2 separate regions of the Homo sapiens genome follow, and region 2 is linked to region 1. Evidence: fine-mapped QTL for protein levels in blood plasma. A gene starts in region 1. The other region holds a variant in brackets. All regions are shown on one strand. Distances are from middle to middle.

Region 1 (11,276 bases):
ATCCTAAAAGAGTCTGACTGGCCCAACTAATCTTTTCCTTGCTAGGTCACAAAGCACCCTATAGTTAGTACCTTTTAAGTCACTCCAGTTATGGCAGGCAAACACAAGACCAACAGGGGCTGTAGTAGACTATTACACTGTTGGCCCCAAAGGCCAACACCTCCCAGTATTCATGACTTTGTGCTGTCCCTTTCCATATTAATTCTGGGCTTAGCCATGTGACTTGATTTGGGCAGTGAGACATTAGCAAGCATGGTGTTTATTGAGTACTTACATATTGAGGCATTCCACTCTTGGAAGCCAGCCGCAGTGCTTTAAAGGAAGTTGAGCTAGACTACTAAATTAGGAGAAGTCATGTGGAGAGAGACTTTGGAGGATTAGAGACCATCTTATATGTTCCAGTCCCATCTGAGTCCCCAAATGAAGTTGCATGGGAGACCTCAGCTACACCACATGGAGCAGAAGAACTGTCCAGATAAGCACAGTCAAGCCACAAAACCATGAGAGTGGCTGGGGGCAATGGCTCATGCTTGTAATCCCAGCACTTTGGGAGGCTGAGGTGGGTGGATCACTTGAAGTCAGGAGTTCAAGACCAGCCTGTCCAACATGGTGAAACCCTGTCTCTACTAAAAATACAAAAAAAGCCAGGCATGGTGGCGGGCACCTATAATCCCAACTACTCAGGAGGCTGAGGGAAGAGAATCTCTTGAACCCTGGAGATGGAGGTTGCAGTGACCCAAGACTGTGCCACTGCACTCCAGCCTGGGCAACAGAGTGAGACTCCATCTAAAAAAAAAAAAAAAGAATCATGAGAAATAATGAATGTGTTGTTTTAAGCCTCTATGTTTTGGGCTGGTTTGTTATATTGATAAGTAACTGAAACAAAAATTAGTATCAGAAGTGGGGTGCTACCATCACAAAAACCTAAAATATGTTGCATTGACTTTTTTTTTTTTTTTTTTTGAGACGGAGTTTTGATCTTATTGCCCAGGCTGAAGTGCAATGACGTGATCTTGGCTCACTGCAACCTCTGCCTCCTGGGTTCAAGCAATTCTCCTGCCTCAGCCTCCCCAGTAGCTGGGATTACAGGCATGTACCACCACACCTGGCTTTTTTTTTTTTTTTTTTTTTTTTGAGATGGAATTTCACTCTTGTTGCCCAGGCTGGAGTGCAATGGCACGAACTCGGCTCACTGCAACCTCCACCCCCTGGGTTCAAGCAATTCTCTTGCCTCAGCCTCCCGGGTAGCTGGGATTACAGACATGCACCACCACACCTGGCTAATTTTTTGTATTTTTGGTAGAGATGGGTTTCTCCATGTTGGTCAGGCTGATCTCGAACTCCTGACCTCAGGTGATCCACCCGTTTTGGCCTCCCAAAGTGCTGGGATTACAGGCGTGAGCCACAGCACCCGGCTTTTTGTTTTGTTTGTTTGTTTGTTTGTTTTAAAGAAACATCTTGCTATATTGACCAGGGTGGTCTCAAACTCCTGGCCTCAAGTGATCCTCCCACCCTGGCCTCCCAAAGTGTTGGGATTACAAGCATGAGCCACTGTGCTTGGTCAGTTGCACCGGCTTCGGGAATGAGTGGCAGGCAGAAGTTAGAAGGGTAGGGAAGAAACTGTTAGTAAAGGAAGGAAGAACAGTGAGGAAATTGCTATTGGAAGCTGAAGAAAGGGGAACTTGTATTGTGTATTGGCTATCACCTGTGGTAACTTAGAAGCCAGGAAAGATATCTAACAAAGTTGTGAATTTAGCTAATGATATTTCCAGGCAGAATGCTGAAAATGCCAGTTGGTATATTTTAGTTGCCTACGATAAGGCATTTCGGGAGAGAGATGAACTAAAAAAGGAACTGTGGCTGGGTGCGGTGGCTAACACCTGTAATCCCAGCACTTTGGGAGGCTGAGGCGGGCAGATCACAAGGTCAAGAAATCAAGACCATCCGAGCTAACATGCTGAAAACCCATCTCTACTAAAAATACGAAAATTAGCTGGGTGTGGTGGTGTGCACCTGTAGTCCCAGCTACTCAGGAGGCTGAGGCAAAAGAATCGCTTGAACCCGGGAGGCAGAGGTTGCAGTGAGCCAAAATTGCACCACTGCACTCCAGCCTGGCGACATAGCAAGACTCCGTCTCAAAAAAAAAAAAAAAAAAAGGCACTGTTCAATTTTCAAACAGAATTTAGAGAAAATATTTCTAAAAGGACTTGCTAAATTAAAAAATAGAACCGCTTACTCTATGTTGCTAATTTTTCAGAAAACAAAACAAAACAAAACCTTTTACTTCATGTTGTACATGTAGAGGAAAGAAAAGAAAAATAATGACAAAAATTCTTTTTCATTCTTTCTCTCTGACAAAAGGTTCTTAAAGTAAGAAATTACCTCAGGGCAAAAATCAAATCCAGGGCATTTCCAGTAATACAGGGACTCAGAGTGAAGATCAAAACAAATAAAGGGTCAGCTATAAAACCTTTTGTTAGCTGGTCATGGGAACACATGCCTATAGCCCCAGCTACTCAGGACGCTGAAGCAGGAGGATCCCTTGAGGCCAGGAGTTTGAGGCTATAAGGCAATATTATTGAGGCTGCAAATAGCCACTATACTCCAGCCTGGGCAACATAGCAAGACCAACTCTAAAACACAAACCAAAAAAACGCTTTGCTTGTTAAGATCTAACATTTTTTTTTGAGATCTAAAATTTAAGACGATGTTCTGTCAACCCTCACAACTAGACAAATGCACTTCTAAACATCTTAAAGGTGTCATCCCATGACACAGACTTGTAGCCTAAAGAAGTGTCTGTCTTGATAGAATGTGGTGCCTTCTGTGTAACTGAGTAGACTACAATTTATTATTTACAGGGTCCACAGAGTTTTAAAGAGAAGTTTAATACTGAAAGCAGCACCAGTTTGGACTAAAAGGGACAATTCAAAATAAAAAGGGGTCTCTGGGCCCCCAACTCTGGGCAGAAAGTAGGCTGAGAAAACTACTCAGCCACAAACACAGATTATTTCCTATTTAAAAGGAAAGACACCTCAGCAGGTAGAGGCCAAGGGCTGAGAGGGTGGATTTGGAAGTCCAGGAGAGCAGTGGTGAGCAATGGGAAATACCAGGGAGCAGAACCAGGCCCTAACTAACCAAGGGAATTCTGGGTTTGGAGTGGACCTAGATATTTGCCTGGCTGAATATAAGAAGTTTTATGGATCAGTGACTGCTCTGTGTCTCCTATTCTCCCATACCCCATTTTGAACAGGAATATCTATTATGTTTATCCTGTCCCTGTCTCAGCATTGTATGTTAAGTGCGTGGGAGGTAGAGAACTTGTATTTTTAGGACGCAGACAGTGGTATGCTGGTAAATGTTTAATAACTGGTCTCCAGGGAAAAAAATCAAAAGCCCTGATTTGTAGTCTTTGTCAATTTCTATAAGACTACAAATTCGCCCACCATGGCTGATTTCTAGCTGCTAATGTGACATCACTGAATGCTGAGTTGGGAGAAGATGTTCACAATCAGCTTTCATAAGTCTGAATAAGCCAGCGCTAGGACATCACTGAAGGCCCCTGCACCTGAAGAAATGTACCAGAGGAGCCTCACCTATATTTGCACCTAATTCAGGTGATGAGATGCTGAACTTTAGCCCGATCCTGATGCCATAAAGGGATGAAATTTTGATGTGGGTAGCTGGGAGAGGATGATTGTATTTTGCTTGTGGGAGAGATATAAATTGTTAGGGGTCAGAGGGCAGACTTTAGTAGGCTGCTAGATTGGTAGTCCCCAGTAAACACTACCTCATGGCTTTCATGCCTTCGTCTAGTTCCATCTCACAGTGATAGATTCTAGGCTTGGCTACAATGACTTGCTTTGTCAATGGGACATTAGCAAGCAGGGTGTATGTAGAAGTTTGAGAATAATTTACACATTGAAATTATCCTCTTGGAATCTGGCCACCATTCTCTAAAGAAACTTGGGATAGACTATTGAATGATAAGAGGCTTCATGGAGAGAGGCTGTTACATTCCCTCAAAATTCATATGTTGAAATCATAACCCCCATGTGATGGTATTAGGAAGTGGAGCCTTTGGGAGGTGATTAAGTAATGAGGGTGGAGCCCTCATTAATAGAATTAGTGCCTTTATAAAAAGTTTCCAGAGATTTGCCTTGTCCCTTTCCTCCATGGGCAGGCACTAAGTCTACTCTCTAGTTCCTGCTCCCTTCCACTTTAACATTCAAAGTACTTTACCTGTATTAGCCCATTTAATTATCTCAACTATCCTCTTATTATCCCCATTTAACACATGAGAAAACTATTAACCACTAGGTCAAACAGCTAATAAATGGCTGAGCAAGAATCTGAGCCCAGGCTATCTAGCTCCAGTTCAAGCAGGGTCTTGAAACAGGTAGGGGTGGGTGCAGTGGCTCACGCCTGTAATCCTGGCACTTTGGGAGGCTGAGGCGAGCAGATCACTTGGGGTCAGGAGTTCGAGACCAGCCTGGCCAACATGGTGAAACCCCGTCTCTACTAAAAATACAAAAATTAGCCAGGTTTAGTGGTGTTCGCCTGTAGTTCCAGATACTCGGGAGGCTGAGGCAGGAGAATGGCTTGAACCCGGGAGGCGGGGGTTGCAGTGAGCTGAGATTGTGCCACTGCACTCCAGCCTGGGCAACAGAATGAGACTCCATCTCAAACAAACAAACAAACAAACAAACACAAAAACGAGGGAATGAGGGGCCAGAAATGGGAAGGGTCTTCCAGACCTAAGAAAAAGCTTGCAAAGGGCTCAATTGGCATTTTCTTTCTTTCTTTTTTTTTTTTTTTGAGACGGAGTGTCACTCTGTCCCCCAGGCTGGAGTGCAGTGGCGCAATCTCGGCTCACTGCTAGCTCCACCTCCTGGGTCCATGCCATTCTCCTGCCTCAGCCTCCAGAGTAGCTGGGACTACAGGCGCCTGCCACCATGCCCAGCTAATTTTTTTTGTATTTTTAGTAGAGACGGGGTTTCACCATGTTAGCCAGGATGGTCTCGATCTCCTGACCTTGTGATCTGCGCGACTTGGCCTCCCAAAGTGCTAGGATTACAGGCGTGAGCCACCGCGCCCGGCCTTCAATTTGCATTTTCTAGAGTCCTGGCTTAGAATTCCTGATCTGCTCACTATATACTCCAACTATTCCCCTGTCTATGGAAGTAACTATCTCTCTTCCTTGTCCTCTTTTATCTATCTTTCTTTAATTAATTAATTTTAGAGATGGGGGTCTCACTCTGTTGCCCAGGCTGGAGGGCAGTGGTGCAAACAGCTCAGTGCAGTCTCAAACTCCTGGGCTCAATGATCCGCCATCTCAGGCTCCCAAATAGCTGGGACTGCAGGTGCACTCCACCGCACCCAGCTATTTTTAGCCCGGGGATGGTGGCTCATGTCTGTAATCTTAGCATTTTGCAAGGCCGAGGCGAGTGGATTGCTTGAGCCCAAAAGTTCAAGACCAATCTGGGCAACATGATGAAATCTTGTCTCTGTAAAAAAATATATGCTGGGCGCGGTGGCTCACACCTGTAATCCCAGCACTTTGGGAGGGCGAGGCAGGAGGATCACGAGGTCAGGAGATCGAGATCATCCTGGCTAACACGGTGAAACCCTGTCTCTGCTAAAAATACATAAAAAGTAGCCAGGCATGGTGGTAGGCGCCTGTAGCCCCAGCTACTCGGGAGGCTGAGGCAGGAGAATGGCGTGAACCCAGGAGGTGGAGCTTGCAGTGAGCCAAGATCGCGCCACTGCACTCCAGCCTGGGTGACAAAGCGAGACTCCATTTCAAAAAATAAAATAAAATAAAATAAAAAATAAAAAAAATTAGCCAGGCATGATGGCGCATACCTGTAGTCCCAGCTACTTGGGAGGCTGAGGTGGGAGGATCACCTGAGCTTGAGCCTGGGAGGTTGAGGCTGCAATGAGCTGTGATCATACCACTGCATTCCAGCCTGGGTGACAGATGAAGACTCTGTCTCAAAAAAAAAAAAAAAAAAAGAAAAAGAAAAGGCCAGGCACAGTGGCTCACACTTGTAATCCCAGCACTTTGGGAGGCCGAGGCAGGCGGATCACGAGGTCAGGAGTTCGAGACCAGCGTGGCCAACATAGTGAAATCCCATCTCTACTAAAAATACAAAAATTAGCCGGGTATGGTGACACACGCCTGTAGTCCCAGCTACTCGGGAGGCTGAGGTGGGAGAACTGCTTGAACCCAGGAGGCAGAGGTTGCAGTGACCTGAGACCATGCCATTGCACTCCAGCCTGGGTGACAGAGTGAGACTCTTTCAAAAAAAAAAAAAAAAAGTTTTTTAAAAAAGAGACAGGGTTGCCGGGCGCGGTGGCTCACGCCTGTAATCCCAGCACTTTGGGAGGCTGAGGTGGGAGGATCACGAGGTCAGGAGTTTGAGATCGGCTTGGCCAACACGGTGAAACCCAGTCTCTACTAAAAATACAAAAATTAGCTGGGTGTGGTGGCGGGCACCTGTAATCCTGGCTACTCAAGAGGCTGGGGCAGGAGAATTCCTTGAACTCAGGAGGTGGAGGTTGCAGTGAGCCGAGATCACGCCACTGCACTCCAGCCTGGGTGACAGAGCAAGACTCCGTCTCAGGAAAAAAAAAAAAAAGGGTCTTGCTATGTTGCTCAGGCTGGTCTCGAACTCCTGGCTTCAAGTGATCCTCCTGCCTTCTGAGTAGCTGGGATTACAGGCAGGAGCCACTGTGCCCAGCCCCTTTATCCATCTTTCTGAGTCCCATTTTGACCCTGTTCTCTGTGATATGGGGACCTGAGGTATATATGGGAACATGACATATGGTGAGGTATTGCAGTCCTGGTGTTTTATTTTTTCTTCTTTTACTCAAATGAGGCATCTGGAGGAGAGGGGAAGGGAGGGGCTAGATCCTGGGGCCAGAGAAAGGAGAGACTCCCACCTCCCAGTCGCTGTGTACAGGCCCAGGAAGTGGATGGGCTCACACCACAGCCTGTGGGTTTGTGGGGCCTGCAGAGAGAGGAGCCGGAGGAGATGACGGCAGCCAATCTCAAAAGAAGTGAAATTTACCAGCTTTCCAGCTGCCTATTGGTCAGGTCTGAGCTACCAGAGTGACCCCAGAGGGATGTGGGGGTTGTCGGGACACCTGGGTAAGGAGATTATAGCCTGTGGGAAGCAGGGGTTGGATGGTTTTTGGGGAAGGAGTCAGAGGTAAGTCTGGCGAGGAAACTTTTCCTTTCCTTGAGGGGTCAAGTTCTGGGGAAGAGCTACAGATCAGGAACCCACCTGTCTCAGCAAAGCTGATGATTTCACATTCCTGTTCCCTGTTGTCCTCTAGAAGTGCCCCCTGTGGGACCCCGTGGAGGTGCTGCAGTGCAGTCCTCAAAGCAGCTCTGGACACAGGGCGGTTCAGTGTTGGGCGCTGGGTGAGGTGCAGCTTGTCCAAGATGCTTCTCTTGGCCAGATCAAGAAGCAGCTCCCGCTGGCTCTCCAGTTCCAAGGTGGGCCCCCCACATGCTGGACACTGACCGCCAGCTCTGGGAGTGGCCACTGTGGTTGGAGCCAGGAGGAGAAAGGCCAGAAGCAATGAGGAGGTCATTGCTGGGGAAGGCCCTTCTTGAGCAATACAGACTCAGGGCTCAGGGTCTCAACAGCTGTGGTCTCAACTCTGTCCTGGCTGCCAGAGGCCCTGGAAGAAGTGTGTGTCCAGCTGGCATGGCTCCTTGTTGCAGGGGACAGAGCAGCAGCCAAACGTCTGACTTGAAAATGAAGCCAGTTACAGGTAGAACTTGGCAGAATCTGCCAACGCATAGTCAGTGAAAGTACAGAGTGGGGGATGTGAGGAGAGGTTGGTTTGTTTAGGGAAAGACACGTCCCTGGGCCAATGTTGGGAGACAGTTGTTATCCATGTGAGCTGCCAGGCCTGGGGTTCAAAGGTGAGAGATTAAATTCCTCCTCAGATCTCTACCCTTGCTGGGAATCCTGGGGATGGTGGAAAGGGACAGATCACAGGTTTTGGGAAAGAATGTTAAAGGGAGACTCTCAAACAAGAAGGGGTCATTGGCAAGGCACTTTAGCTCACTGTCACGCATGAACAATTGAGAGTTGCATTCTTTTTTGCCTGGTGTTTCTCAAAGCCCATCCCCATCCCTCCATCCTCCCTCCTGGGGTTCTCAATCCAGCCTTATTTGTTAGCCCTGGTTGAGTTTTGCCCAAGAGGTCTCAAAACTATGAAGTCTGAAGGTTAAGGGAAGGGAGGCACAGTGTTCTAGCCATGTCTTTGATGCTCTCAGAGGGAACTCCTAAGGTGGGGAAAGGGCTTGAGTTCCAGATTTGCTCACCCTTTGGGGTTTTTTTCTGTCTTGGAAAAGAAGTTTTGAGATTCCCTTTTTTTTTTTTTCTTTTGAGATGGCGTCTCACTCTGTCGCCCAGGCTGGAGTGCAGTGGCATAATTTCAGCTCACTGCAACCTCTGCCTCCCGGGTTCTAGCAGTTCTCCTGCCTCAGCCTCCTAAGTAGCTGGGATTACAGGTGCGTGCCACCATGCCTGGTTAATTTTTGTATTTTTAGTAGAGACGGGGTTTCACCATGTTGTTCAGGCTGGTCTTGAACTCCTGACCTTGTGATCCACCCGCCTCGGCCTCCCAACATGCTGGGATTACAGGCGTGAGCCACCGTGCCTGGCCAGGAGTATAGGTTTTAAATCCAGGTATTCTTGGTTGTTGTTCTTCAGTTCTTGCACTTGTCTCAGAAACATTTCAGGCTTTCATTCTGTGTCATGGCACTGAGAAAATAAAACAATTTTAATCTGGGAAATGCAAGTCTTTGAAGATTATCAGGCTCAGAGAGACATTAAAATGAGACAGCAGACCAGGCATGGCGGCTCAAGCCTATAATCCCAGCACTTTAGGAGGCCAAAGCGGGCAAATCATTTGAACTCACGAGTTCAAGACCAGACTGGGCAACATAGCCAGACCCTATCCATACTAAAATAAAAAATAAATAAATAAAATAAAATTTAAAAAAAGCTGGGAGTGGTGGTGTGTTCCTGTAGTCCCAGCTACTCAGGAGGCTGAGACTGGAGGATCATTTGAGCCCAGGAGGTTGAAGGTGCAGTGAGCTGTAATTGTACTGCTGCACACCTGCCTGGGAAATAGAGTGAGAGCCTGTCTCAAAAAAATAAATAAAAAATAAATAAATAAAATGAGAGGGCAATCATGTCCTACTTCCTGCTTTTGAGCTATGTATTCATCTCTTGAAATTGCTTGCTATTGCCACAAGTAACTATAAATTAACATAATAATGCTGCACTGGACACTATAACCTAGATCCTATAGCTTAACAATCTATAGCCAATCACTAATCAATGTTATTTCTGTAAACCAACAAGAATACCCGACAACTTTGTATCAGTCTACTCCCTGTCTCCTTCTTTTTTGCCCTTAAAAATGTGCTTGTAGGCTGGGCGTGATGGCTCACGTCTGTAATTCCAGCACTTTGGGAGGCTGAAGTGGGCAGTTCACTTGAGGTCAGGAGTTCGAGACGAGCCTGGCCAGCATGGTGATACCCCATCTGTACTAAAAATACCAAAGAAAAATAAAAAAATAAATAAAATAAAAATAAGCCGGGCGTGGTGGCACATGCCTGTAGTCCCAGCTACCTGAGAGGCTGAGGCAGGAGAATCACTTGAACCCGGGAGGTGGAGGTTGCAGTGAGCTGAGATCATGCCACTGCACTCCAGCCTGGGCGACAGAGCAAGACTCCGTCTCAAAAAAAATAAAAAAAAATCTGGAACTTTGGTTTCATTATTGTGCCTCAGGTTTCCTCATCTATAAAACAGGTATAATAATAGTACCTATTGTATTGAGGATTTGATACTAACAATAGATGTAGAATGCTACACATTTTATATTGTACTTACATACACATAATACAAATATTAGCTATTATTTCCTACTGGTCATCACTGCCTGGTCTGGAACTCCTGAGCTCAAATGATCCACCTGCCTTGGCCTCCCAAAGTGCTAGGTGTGAGCCACTGCGCCCGGCCAAGACAAAAAGTTTAAATCGTGGTGAAAAGTGGCAGGTTAGATCAGTTCAGTTCAGTTGTATTTTTCTTCCCCCGTTGTTGTTCTCTAGAGGGTTGAGAGAATTTGGGGGCAGGAGGCAGTGATGACCAGGAGAGAGGGCTGGGCAAGGTGGCTCACACCTGTAATCCCAGAACTTTGGAAGGCCGAGGCGGGTGGATCACCTGAGGCCAGGAGTTCGAGATTAGCCTGGCCAACATGGCAAAACCCCGTCTCTACTAAAAATACAAAAAATAGCCGGGTGTGATGGTGCGTGCCTGTAGTCCCAGCTACTCCGGACGCTGAGGCAGGAGAATCACTTGAACCTGAGAGGTGAAGGTTGTAGTGAACCGACATTGCACCACTGCAATCTAGTTGCCTGGGTGACAAAGCGAGACCCCATCTCAAAATAAATAAAACAAACAAACAAACAAACAAAAAACGCCAACCAACCTGGAACTTGCTCATCCTTGAAGGAAAGATGAACTTCATGCCTCTATGACTTTGCTGGAATCTCCATTCTTACCTCTCTAGTGAACTATTTATAGTCTCAAGATTAGCTGGAGTTTCACCTGTAGTTTCTCTGTAACTTACTCAATCTCTTTTACCGCTAAGAACGAATTGCTGTTCCTTGTGTTTCCATAGCACATTTAAACCTTTCTATTATAGCACTTAAATTGTACTATAATTATTTGACTTTTTTTGCCTACCGCAGTTTCTGTCACAAGGTAAATATTTAATGGTCGAATTCTACAAAAGACTACATTGCTTCTTTGAGGGAGTTTGGTCAGTAAATTATCCACACACACATAATCAATAACTAAATTGATTCTGCCTAGAATGGACAAAACGGGGGAGGCTGGACATTTAAGACGATTTTTGAGAACTGTATCTTAGAGAGGGGATGATGGTAAGAATGTGATCTTAATAGGACAGACTGAGTTCCTCCTAGGTCGGTTTTTTTCATCTTTACGTAAAATGGACATTTACCTGCTCAACTATAGTTATCCACGTATGCAACAAATACCGAGTGTACGTTCTTTTGGTACAGGAGTTACTGCCCTAAGTGAAAGTGCTCTGTAAATGGAAATTACTTTAGAATGATCACTATTAGTATTATATTGAAATCCAGGGTATTCTATCTGACAGACTTGAAGGGTTTAAGGAGGACCGAGGCTCCCAGTGACTCCGGATTGGTGTCCTGACAC
Region 2 (11,384 bases), 13 kb before region 1:
CCCCATCAGCTCAGGTTTCACCATCTGGCCATGGTGACTGGGCCTGAAGTAGGGGTATGGGGGTGGGGGGGTGCAATGTGGACACGCATGATGCAAGAAAGAGGATGATTTCACATGCTCAGTCCCCAAGGTCTGGGACTTGGGGGAGGGAACGCCTTATGAGCCAGGTGGGGAAGGGCAATTTTCCCTCATACCTCTAGTCTTTCTAGCTTCACCACTGCTGCAGCAGTTTCCATGAGGCAGCTGTGAGTTCCAGTGGGTATTCCTCTGGGGCCCTTAGGCCAGAAGGAAAATTCTGGTCTCTTTATTTCTAGCACTGGGGCTAGGACAGGGATGAGGGTTTGGGCGGGTAGGAGAATGGAGCCCTCTTGCTCAGGCCCAGGTGGCAGTGCCACGAGGCACAGAAGTCACCCCCTGACCCTGCCTGTGCTGGCCGCCCAGAGTCCAGTTGGCCTGGAGCATGATGTGGAGCATGATGTGGAGGAGGGCCAGAGCCGGCGGGGGTTGGGGCGGGGAACGTGTTCCTGTGATGTCTGGGGAAGCCCAGAGAGGTGGTGGTGGTGGTGATGCAATCTTACACAGGGCAGAGTCCATCAGGACTGTCAGGGGGCATGACACTTGGGAGGGCCTATACCCAGCTGCCACTTCTCTTTCAAGGGACTGTGAGAGTTGCCTAAATTTGGGGCATCCTAGAAGTAGTGCCAGGCCTCCTTTTTTTCTTACATTTTTAAAATTTAAATTTTATTTTATTTTACTGAGGTAAGGTCTCAATCTGTTGTTCAGGCTGGAGTGTAGTGGCACAATCATAGCTCACTGCAGCCTTGAATTCCTGGGCTCAGACAATCCTTCTGCCTCAGCCTCCTTAGTAGTTGGGACTACAGGTGCGCACCACCACACCTGGCTAATTTTTAAATTTCCCACAGAGACAGGGTCTCGCTATGTTGCCCAGGCTGGTCTTGAACTCCTGGGCTCAAGCAATCCACTTGCCTCAGCCTCCTAAAGTGCTGAGGTTACAGGCGTGAGCCACCGCACCACCCTTCAGGCCTGTTAATGGGGGTAGAAAATGGGAGCTCTAAGAGCTTTTGACAACAAAGCAAGGCAAATACAGCAGTCTTGGTTCCCAGTCTCAGCCCTCCTGACCACATTTTCTCACTGTCTTTATTTTATTTTATTTTATTTTATTTTTTGAGGCTGAGTCTCGCTCTGTCGCCCAGGCTGGAGTGCAGTGGCACAATCTCGGCTCACTGCAAGCTCCACCTCCCGGGTTCACACCATTCTTCTGCCTCAGCCTCCCGAGTCGCTGGGACTACAGGTGCCAGCCACCACGCCCGGCTAGTTTTTTGCATTTTTAGTAGAGACGGGGTTTCACTGTGTTAGCCAGGATGGTCTCCATCTCCCGACCTCATGATCTGCCCGCCTCGGCCTCCCAAAGTGCTGGGATTACAGGCATGAGCCACCGCACCTGACCTATTTTTTATTTTATTTTTTATGTTTTTGAGACAGGGTCTTACTCTGTCATCCAGGCTGGAGTGTGGTGGCCTGATCACAGCTCACTGCAGCCTTGACCTCCTGGGTTAAGTGATTCTTCCACCTCAGCTTCCAGAGTAGCTAAGTCTACAGGTGCGTGCCACCACACCAACCACACCACACCACACCACACAGGCTAATTTATTTTTTATTCTTTTGTAGAGACAGGGTCTTGCTGTGTTGCCCAGGGTGGTCTCAAGCTCCTGGGCTCAAGCGATCCTCTCACCTCAGCGTCCCAAGGCGCTAGGATTATAGACATGAGCCACCACACCCAGTCCTCACTGGCTTTAAATGGGGGGGGACCCAGACCCCTCCACATTGAATTCATGAAGGTGGGCCTCATGCTAGCTTTTCTCCTTATGCCCCAATTTCTCCAAGAAGCTTGATGGGGAGAAAGCTGTGGGGGAAGTGGGTGTGATTTGGAAATGTGTCTTTACTCCACTTTGCTCATCTCCCCTCTGTTTAGATGATGGGGGCTGTCAAGAGAGACTATTAGATCTAGGCGACAGGGTTCCTAATTGGAAGGCTGGACCTCAGTACCACCAGTGTCCACCATGTGGCAGTGCCGTGCCTCTGGACAGCAGCTGGCTTGTAGCTGGCTGGAGCTTCCCAGGGACAGGGAAGGGGCAGCTCTGGGGAATGGAGTGATGAGGAGTGCCCCTCGACCTCTCACTCTGGGGACGCTGCCTCCCCCACAAGAGACAGGGACAAGCTGGTTCCTTTGTTCTTTCCCCATCACACTGCCAGAGAAGAGAGACTGTCTTCAGGATCCACATCACTGCTACCTTTGGTTTTGGACCTCATCACACAAACACGTGGCAATGGAGCTTGGTGATGTACCAGGCTCTTCCTAGAACCTCAGGGCACTCTTTGGTGGGGGTGGAGTGGGGTGGGGGCGCACTGAGACGATTAGACCCTCCTGTCCACCCTGCATTTCTCCCCAAGCTCTGAAACACATTCAAGAGCTCTGTCCAGTGTTCTCCCCAGCTCCCAGCAACCATTCTGTTGGTTGGGCTGGGAAATGACAGCCCTCTACCCCCTCGGGTCTGGAACATTGGTCAGCAAAGTGGAGGTATCTATCCATGGTGGTGCCTCAGACGGCTTACCTGTTGGTATCAGTAGGCAGTCAGGGGAAGTGACAAGAAGTGGCTGCAGGAGTCACTGACCCCACCTCTCCCCACCCTCACTGTCAGATGCCCCCAGTTTCCAGCTCTTCCCACCCGCTTGCTGCTGTGCCTGGCCTGGCCCTACCTCCCCACTGACACTTACGTCAGAGCTCAGCTATAAATACGCTCTTAGCATCTTAGTCACTTTTCCCAAGAAGTGCTCCTGGGTTATAAATACCCCAGCCATCTGCCTCACTGCCTGCCCTACCACCAACCTGGTTGGGGGCTGGGGGATAGCGACAGGCTTGGGGGTGGGTAAGGAAGTAGAAGAAGTGGGAGTGGTTATCTTGCTCAAATGAGAAAAGCCTGAAGGGGTCCAGAGGTAGGAGCTAGGAAGCTCTAGAAGAAAATGTTTAGAAGAAGACAGACCCACTCTCTCCCCTTATTACAAAAGACAGAGCCAAAAAAGAAAGGGAATAATGCTGATCCTGTTTTTATTTAAAAGTAGGCTATTTTGTTCATCATGGATTTTTTGCATTAATTTTGACTTTAAAATAATATTGCATTAAAGTCCTATCTTGATTAATAAATTGTTCACCACCCCCTTAAAATTTAGCCCCCCCAGGTGAATGACTCACTTTGCTTTACCCCAGTCCTAGCCCTGGAGACTAAGCTGTAATTGGGAAGGAGGTTAGATCTGGGGGTCGGGGATGTGTGGGGGAGACACCAGAAGGCCTCCTTAGATTCTCCTTAGATGAAGGTCTCCTCAAGTCAAAGGTGGGATAACTTCCATGGGTTGCTCAGGAAGCCCTCAAGCTCAGATTTACAGTCCCCCAGGCAGTCCTTTTCAGACTTTCTCCTCTAGGGTTCCTATTTCAGGGACCTCTTACCCTCATAGGAGGGGGTCATAAACTGAGCAAACACAGACATCACGTTTACCAAAGAACACATGGGTTTTGCGCAAACTCGGCCTTGGGCTGCAGACATTATCGACCTCATGGTTCAGGACTGTCCAGCCAAAGGGAGGAGATGTGGGGGAGGACGGGCAAAGGTCTAAAAAGGACCCAGTCTCAGAGCAAATGCCACCCTCTCCTCATCCAGGCCTTCCTCTTCTCCCTGTCCCACTCCAGCAGCCCTTGCCCATTCCAGCTTCCAGGCAGGACTCCTGGGTGGAGCACTGGGGGTGGGTGAAAGGAAGGCAAGTCAGAGGTCCTGGCAGCCAGCTCTGAGCATGCCTCTGCCTCCCACACTTGCGTGCCCACAGCTGGTCAGTTTACTGGATGACCAAGCATAGATCTGTCTCATCTTTTGGAGGGATTACAGAGGGAACAGGTAAAGCCTAGGTTTTTATTAGCCATGAGACCTCAAAGATGGTTCTGGAAGGATGGAGGGACGGGGTGCCTAAGAAAGAAGAGGCATAAAGTGTGAGATGGATACAATAGTTCAGTTCTGAGGAGACCATGTGAAGAGACAGCAGAGTAGGCAGACTACAGCATAAGCAGGCAGGCTCTGTGTCATCTGGGGTGCCAGTTAGGGCCCTTGTAGGAGATAGAGGACTTTTCAGCTGTCTGTTTTTGCTTCATCAAGAGAACTTAGTGAAGGAATTATTTACAGAGGTATAGGCAGAGTTAAGGGAACCAGTATGAGATGTTGAGGCCCCAGGGACTAGCAAGATAGAAAGCCTTTAGGACCCCCTAGTGTTGAAGCAGTTATATCAGAATGTAGGCAGAGCTGGGGCCATGGAAGGGGGTAGCCAGGTAGTGTAGGGACACAGAATAGCCACAGTTACACAGAACCATGACACCTAGACAGAGAGGGAACAGGGATAAGAAATGCCCTGACCTCAGCAGGAAGCCAGAGGGCAGGGGAGCTCAGGTGATAGAGCTCAGGCAAGTCAGCCCTTAAGGGCATAGAGAAAGGCAGAGAAGGACAAAAAATGGATGAAGGTATGCAAAGAGAGCTTTAGTAGTTCACCTGGACAACTAAGAAGGACAGGGGCTCACAACAAAGAGGGGGGTAGGTAAGCCTCTATTTTGGGCAGCAGTGATCTAAACTTTGGTGAATCCAAAGAAGGGCCTCTCTGGAGATCCACAAAAATTGGGGGAAGGGGTTGTGTCAACTCATCTTGGAGTGGGGACCATTGAGTAGAAAGGACAGGAAGGCATAGTGGGTTATGGGGTCTATTAAAGGTGAGCTAAGGGTGTCTTTGCCTGGGAACCAGATGGCATTGCTCATGGTTGGAGATGGGTCTGAGTCCCTGGAGTGGGGCTAGC[G/A]GGATGGACTAGCGGGATGGACTATGCCCTAGGAAAGAGGGTAGTGGTCAGGAAGATGGCACAGTGACTTGCTTTAGATGAAGGTTTCTTCAAGTCAAAGGTGGGGTAATTTCCATAAGATGCTCAGGAAGAGGGAGTCCACATTCTGGACAGAGAATGAGGTCATTCCCTCCTCTCAAGGAAGTGCACTTCTGTAGGGGCGTGTTTTCCCATGCAACCTTGGGCTGCCCATACCACACATAGACTAACTGCACCCACAGGCCTCTACTACCATGTCAGGTATGTCAGTCTTGACAATGTTGCTGTCCCTGTCATAATAGAGCAGAGACAGGGGGCGCCGGGCCGTGGGTACACAGCATGAGCCCCCTCCAGTGGTGCCTGCAGCTGTGTTGGCCTTGAGAAGATTGAGCACTGCAGTGTGAAAGGAGGCAGCAATACCAGGCATGCCTGCTATGTGTAGTGGGCACTGCCCTATGCAGAAGTTCATGGCGTAGCCCTCAGGCTGGATGATCCAGTCGTGCCAGCCAATCTCACGGAAGTCCACAAAAAACTCTTGTCGACAGCACATCCTGGACCCTCCTTGGCAGTCGATGCCTCGTCGGTGAATCTGGTGTTTGCCCCCAACTCTCACCCGGGCTGCCACAAAAGGCCTATGGGCAGCTCCACCCAGGATGACTGAGCTCTGGGCTACCTGGCCTTCAAGTACCAGCTCCAGGGTCAGGTGCCCCTGGCTGCAGGCAGCTTGAGCTTCAGGCCCTAGGGGGAGTTGATGCCAGCCACTGGCATCCACCTCCAGCAGGTACTGAGTAGCCAAGGTGAGGTTGGTATTATGTGGACCCAGCACAAGGACTCTCACTTTCAAGGTCCAAGTGGTATTGGAAGGGAGCTGCACAAAGAACATGAGACTGGCCTGCTGGACCTCCCTGTCACCAGCAGTTCTATCAGAGGAGAAGTGAAAATCAAGACGAGTCTGGTTGATGGTGGAGAGGCCTGTGGACATAAGAAGCCCCAGTCATTGCGGCCTTCTGACTGTCAGTTCTACCAACTATTTCTCTGTACTCAGCATTCTTGAGTTGTCTATAGCACTTGGCATTTGCTACAGTTTAAACATGTCCTCCAAAGTTCATGTGCTGGAAATTGGACCTCCAATGCAGTGGTGTTGGGAAGTGGGGCCTAATGGGAGGTGTTTGGGTCATGGGAATACCACCTTCATGAATGGATTAATGCCCTTATCTTGGGAATGGGTACCTTATAAAAGGATAAGTTTAATTATCAGCCCCACCCTCTCTTTGCCCTTCTGCCATGGAATAACACAGCAAGAAGCAAGAAGGCCCTCGCCAGATGCCAGCCCCTTGATCTTGGACTTCCCAGCCACCAGAACCATGAGTTAATATATTTCTGCTCATTATAAATGACCTAGTCTGTGGTATTCTGTTACACCAGCACAAAACGGACTAAGACAGCACTGCTGACAATTCTTTCCTTCCTGAAAATCTTTTCTCTCTTGGCTTCCATGACACAACTCTGTTATAATTCTTCCTGGTTTTCTTTGCTGGCTTTTCTTTCTCTGACCATCCCTTTAATATCAGAGTTTTCCAAGGTCTGTCTTGGACTTTCATTTCCTTCTAGTCTACATTAAGGGAGCTCTTAATTAGACTCATGGTCAAGCAACATAATTTTTTTTTTTTTTTTTTTTTTTAGACGGAGTCTCATTCTGTCACCTAGGCTGGAGTGCAGTGGCGTGAGGTTGGCTCACTGCAACCTCTGCCTCCTGGGTTCAAGTGATTCTTCTGCCTCAGCCTCCTGAATAGCTGGGATTACAGGTGCCTGCCACCACTCCCAGTTAATTTTTGTATTTTTAGTAGAGATGGGGTTTCACCATGTTGGCCAGGCTGGTCTTGAACTCCTGACCTTGTGATCCACTCACCTCAGTCTCCCAAAGTGCTGGGATTACAGGCGTGAGCCACCACGCCCAGCCAAGCAACACAATTTTTATGTTGGTGATTCCCAAATCTGTATGCCCAGACCAGAGCATTTTGCATATTTGGACCGGACATATAGATTTGGAAATCACCAAGCTTCAGGCCTAGATTTCTAACTACTTACTTTTGTCACATGAATGTCCTGGCAGCACATTAAAATCAATTTGTCCCAGAGCTGGGTGGAGTAGTGCATGCCTGTAATCCCAGCTACTTGGGAGACTGAGGCAACATGCCCAAGACCAGCCCAGGCAACATGGCAAGACCCCATCTTATAAATACATATGTGTGTATGCATGTGTGTATATATATGTATATATGTATGCATACATATATACAAACACAAGCACACACACATATATTTTATATATATATATATATATATATATATATATTTTTTTTTTTTTTTTTTTTTTTTTTTTTTTGAGACGGAGTTTTGTTCCTGTTGCCCAGGCTGGAGTGCAATGGCGCAATCTCAGCTCACTGCAACCGCTGCCTCTCGGGTTCAAGCAATTCTCCTGCCTCAGCCTCCCAAGTAGCTGCACCCAGCTAATTTTGTATTTTTAGTAGAGACAGGGTTTCTCCATGTTGGTCAGGCTGGTCTTGAACTCCTCACCTCAAGTGATTCGCCCTGCTTAGCCTCCCAAAGCGCTGGGATTACAGGCGTAAGCCACCGCGCCTGGCCTATATATTTTTTTTAATCAATTTTTTCAACCTGAAAAATAATTACTTTCCTTCCTATATACCCCCTCTTCATTCTTGGTGGTGCCACTACCCTCATCACCTGTAAAAACTCTATGATCAGCTAGGCGTGGTGGCTCACGTCTGTAATCCCAGCACTTTGGGAGGCTGAGGCAGGTGGATCACCTTAGGTCAGGAGTTTGAGACAAGCCTGGCCAACATGGTGAAACCCCATCTCTACTAAAAATACAAAAATCAGCCAGGCGTGGCAGTGGGCGCCTGTAATCCCAGCTACTTGGGAGGCTGAGGCAGGAGAATCGCTTGAACTTGGGAGGCAGAGGTTGCAATGAGCCAAGACCACACCATTGCACTCCATCCTGAGAGACAGAGCGAGGCTCCGCCTCAAAAAAAGAAAAAAAAAACAAACTATGATTACTTTCTTCATTCCCCCTATACCTTGTCTCACCAGAATGGTTCTAATGTCTGTGCATTTCTTTGTATCCCTATTACTACTGCCCAATTTCCTCTTATCATCCCTCACCTTCCTTACTGAACATCTTAGTTGGGTTTCTATTCCCTCCACTCTACTGAAATTGCACACGTCAAGATCACCAACACCTTCCACAAAGCAAATCTAACCATTTGTATTCATCTTACTTGACCTTTAAGCAGTGTTTGACACAGTTAACCACTCCCTCCTTCTTCCATATTTTCTTCTCTTGGCTTTTATAACAGTGGCCACTCTATCTTTTTCTCCTCTATCGACAGCTCCTCTTTGTCGGCCCAACCTTTAAATGTTGGAAGTCAGGCCAGGCGTGGTGGCTCACACTTGTCCCAGAACTTTGGGAGACTGAGGTGGATGCATGGCTTGAGTCCAGGAGTTTGAGATCAGTGAGATCAGCCTGGACAACTTGGCAAAACCCTGTCTCTACAAAAATTACAAAATTACCCAGGCGTACTAGTGTACACCTGTAGTCCCAGCTACTACGGAGGGCTAAGGTGGAAGGATTGCTTGACCCTGGGAGATCAAGGCTATAGTGAGACATCAACGCACCACTGCACTCCAGGCTGGGCAACAAAATGAGACCCTGTCTCAAATAAATAAATAAATAAATAAATAAATAAATAAATAAATAAATAAATAAATAAAGTCCTAAGCTCCCTTCTCTTCACTATCTATACCCTCTCCCAGAATGATCATCCATTCCATGGCTTTCAATTCCATCTATATGCTGATGACTTCCAAATATATATATCTGGTCCTGACCTCTCCCTGAGCCCCAGCCTTGTATGTCCAAGTGGCTATCTGATATTTGACTTGGACATCCAATGATATTTCAATCTCTTTTTTTAATTAAAAAAAAATTTTTAGGCCGGGTGTGGTGGCTCACGCCTGTAATCCCAGCACTTTGGGAGGCAGAGGCAGGTGGATCAGTTGAGGTCAGGAGTTCGAGACCAACCTGGCCAACATGGTGAAACCCTGTCTCTACTAAAATTACAAAAAATCAGCCAGGCATGTTGGCACATGCCTGTAATCCCAGCTACTCGGGAGGCTGAGGCAGGAGAATTGCTTGAACCCAGGAGACAGAGGTTGCAGTGAGCTGACATCGCGCCACTGCACTCCACCCTGGGCAACACAGCGAGACTCTGTCTCAAAAAAACGAACAAACAAACAAACAAAAAAACCACCAAAAATTAGCCAGGCATGCTGCGGGCACCTGTAATCCCAGCTACTTGGGAGGCTGAGGCAGGAGAATCACTTGAACCTGCGAGGCAGAGGTTGCAGTGAGCCGAGATCATGCCATTGCATTGCACTCTAGCCTGGATGACAGAGCGAGATTCTGTCTCCAAAAAAAAAAAAAAAAAAAAATTTACATGGAGATGGGCGGGGGGTCTCACTATGTTACCCAGACTGGTCTTGAACTCCTGGCCTTAAGTGATCCTCTCACCTTGGCCTCCCAAAGTGCTGAGATCACAGGCATAAGTCAATGTGCCCAGCCTCAATCCTGTACAAGGAAGTCTAAATGTATCCCCCCAGTCCAAACCTGTTCCTTCTCCAAACTTCTCCCCATAAACGCATTGCTTAAGGCAAAATCTTGATTGTGTTTATCCTCTACTTTGAAATTATCTGAAAGTTTTATCAACTCTACTTCTAATTCATAATATAATTTCACTTCTCCCCACTTCCTCTACTACTCATTAGTCCAACTCACAACCATCTTTTTCTTTAACTGTAGCTTTCGTTCACTCAAGTGATTCACTCTTGCTCTCCAAACCATTCTCCAAATATCAGCCAGTGATCTTTTTATAAATCTGATTAGTTTTATCTTCTCAGCTTAAAACACTTCAAAGTCTTCCCCTTGCTCTTTGGATAAAATCTAAACTCCTTGAAATAGGAAACTTGTTTGACACTTAACTACTACACCCTGCCTATACTGGCCTTTTTCTGTTCCTCAAATTCACCAAACATAAAGCTATCTCATAGCCTTTACACTTGCTAGTCTCTTTCCCTGGAATGTCTTTCCAAGATCTTTGAATGACTGAGTTCTTTTTGGCATTCGGCTCAGATGTCTCCTCCTCAGAGAGGCTTCAGGCTTCCTTCCTAATCTATCTAAAGCAGGCTTCAGCCAGGCGTGGTGGCACATGCCTGTAATCGCAGCACTATGGGAGGTCAAGGTGGCAGGATTGCTTGAGGCCAGGAGTTTGAGACCGACTGGGCAACATAGTGAGACCCTGTCTCTACAATAACTAAAAAATATATAAATAAATAAAAAATAGCTGGGCATGGAGGAACACATCTGTAATCCCAGCTACTCGGGAGAATCACTTGAGCCCAGGAGGTCAAAGCTGCAATGAGCCAAGATCATGCCACTGCACTCTAGCCTGGGCAACAGAGCAAGGCTGTCTCAAAAATGAAATAAAATAGAATAAAACGTAATAAAATAAAATAAAATAAAAATAGCCTTCAATTCTGCCTCCATCTCTCTAATACATCATCCTGCTTAACTGTTTGTATAGCCATTATCATGCTCTGTAATCAGTGTGGTTCTTTTTTTTTTTTTTTCTGAGACAGAGTCTTGCTCTGTCACCCAGGCTAGATTGCAGTGGTACGATCTTGGCTCACTGCAACCTCCACCTACCCGGTTCAAGCAATTCTCCTGCCTCAGCCTCCTGAGTAGCTGGGATTACAGGCATGCACCACCATGCCCTGCTAATTTTTGTATTTTTAGTAGAGACGGAGTTTTGCCATGTTGGCCAGGCCGCTCCGGAACTCCTGACCTTGTGATCCTCCTACCTCGGCCTCCCAAAGTGCTGGGATTACAGGCATGAGCCACCAAGTCCGGTCCAGTGTGGTTCTTCGTTCATTTGTTTACTACGTATTTCTCCTACCCCTCTTTCTTCCCTGCAGCTAGAATGTAAGCTCCATGAAAACAGCGGTTGTGCCTGTATGGCTCACCATTGTATCCCTAGTACTTGGTATTTAGTAAGCACTCAATAAACACTTGTTGAGACCAGGTGTGGTGGCTCACACCTGTAATCCCTGCACTTTGGGAGGCTGAGATGGGAGGATCACCTGAGGTCATGAGGTCATGAATTCGAGATCAGCCTGGCCAACAGGGTGAAACCCCATTTCTACTAAACATACAAAAATTAGCCGAGTGTGGTGGCATGCACCTGTAGTCCCAGCTACTCAGGAGGCTGAGGCAGGAGAATTGCTTGAACTCAGGAGGCAAAGGTTGCAGTGAGCAGAGATCACGCCACTGCACTCCAGCCTGGGTGACAGAGCCAGACTCTGTCTCAAAAACAAACAAACAAAC

Direction of the effects. Alleles are on the strand shown, and positions count from the first base shown. The strength of an association depends on the size of the effect and on how common the allele is.
For the plasma level of the protein whose gene starts at base 7,705 in region 1, A is the low allele of the variant in region 2 and G is the other (strong association).

Evidence for each region. A credible set is the group of variants that fine-mapping cannot tell apart. PIP is the posterior inclusion probability: the model's chance that the variant is causal. Protein levels are from antibody-based Olink assays in UK Biobank. Linkage for the fine-mapping came from a reference panel and not from the study's own genotypes, which makes the PIPs less certain.
Region 2: its variant is the best candidate, but not a certain one, in a credible set for the plasma level of the INHBC protein (UK Biobank, PIP 0.78).

What each region holds. Positions count from the first base shown.
Region 1 is chr12:57,431,213-57,442,488 of GRCh38, reverse strand. INHBC (inhibin subunit beta C) reads right to left here and starts at 7,705. Exons shown (of 2, transcript NM_005538.4): 1 at 7,290-7,705. The coding sequence starts at 7,602. R3HDM2-DT (R3HDM2 divergent transcript) reads right to left here. Exons shown (of 2, transcript NR_185976.1): 1 at 11,059-11,276; 2 at 8,554-8,786.
Region 2 is chr12:57,443,789-57,455,172 of GRCh38, reverse strand. It overlaps INHBC (inhibin subunit beta C), which reads right to left. Exons shown (of 2, transcript NM_005538.4): 2 at 3,111-5,896. The coding sequence ends at 5,151. Among named protein-coding and RNA genes, the nearest start is that of INHBE, 5.8 kb to the left of the region's middle. RefSeq lists an enhancer at 1-187. The variant G/A (reference allele first, on the strand shown) is at 4,907.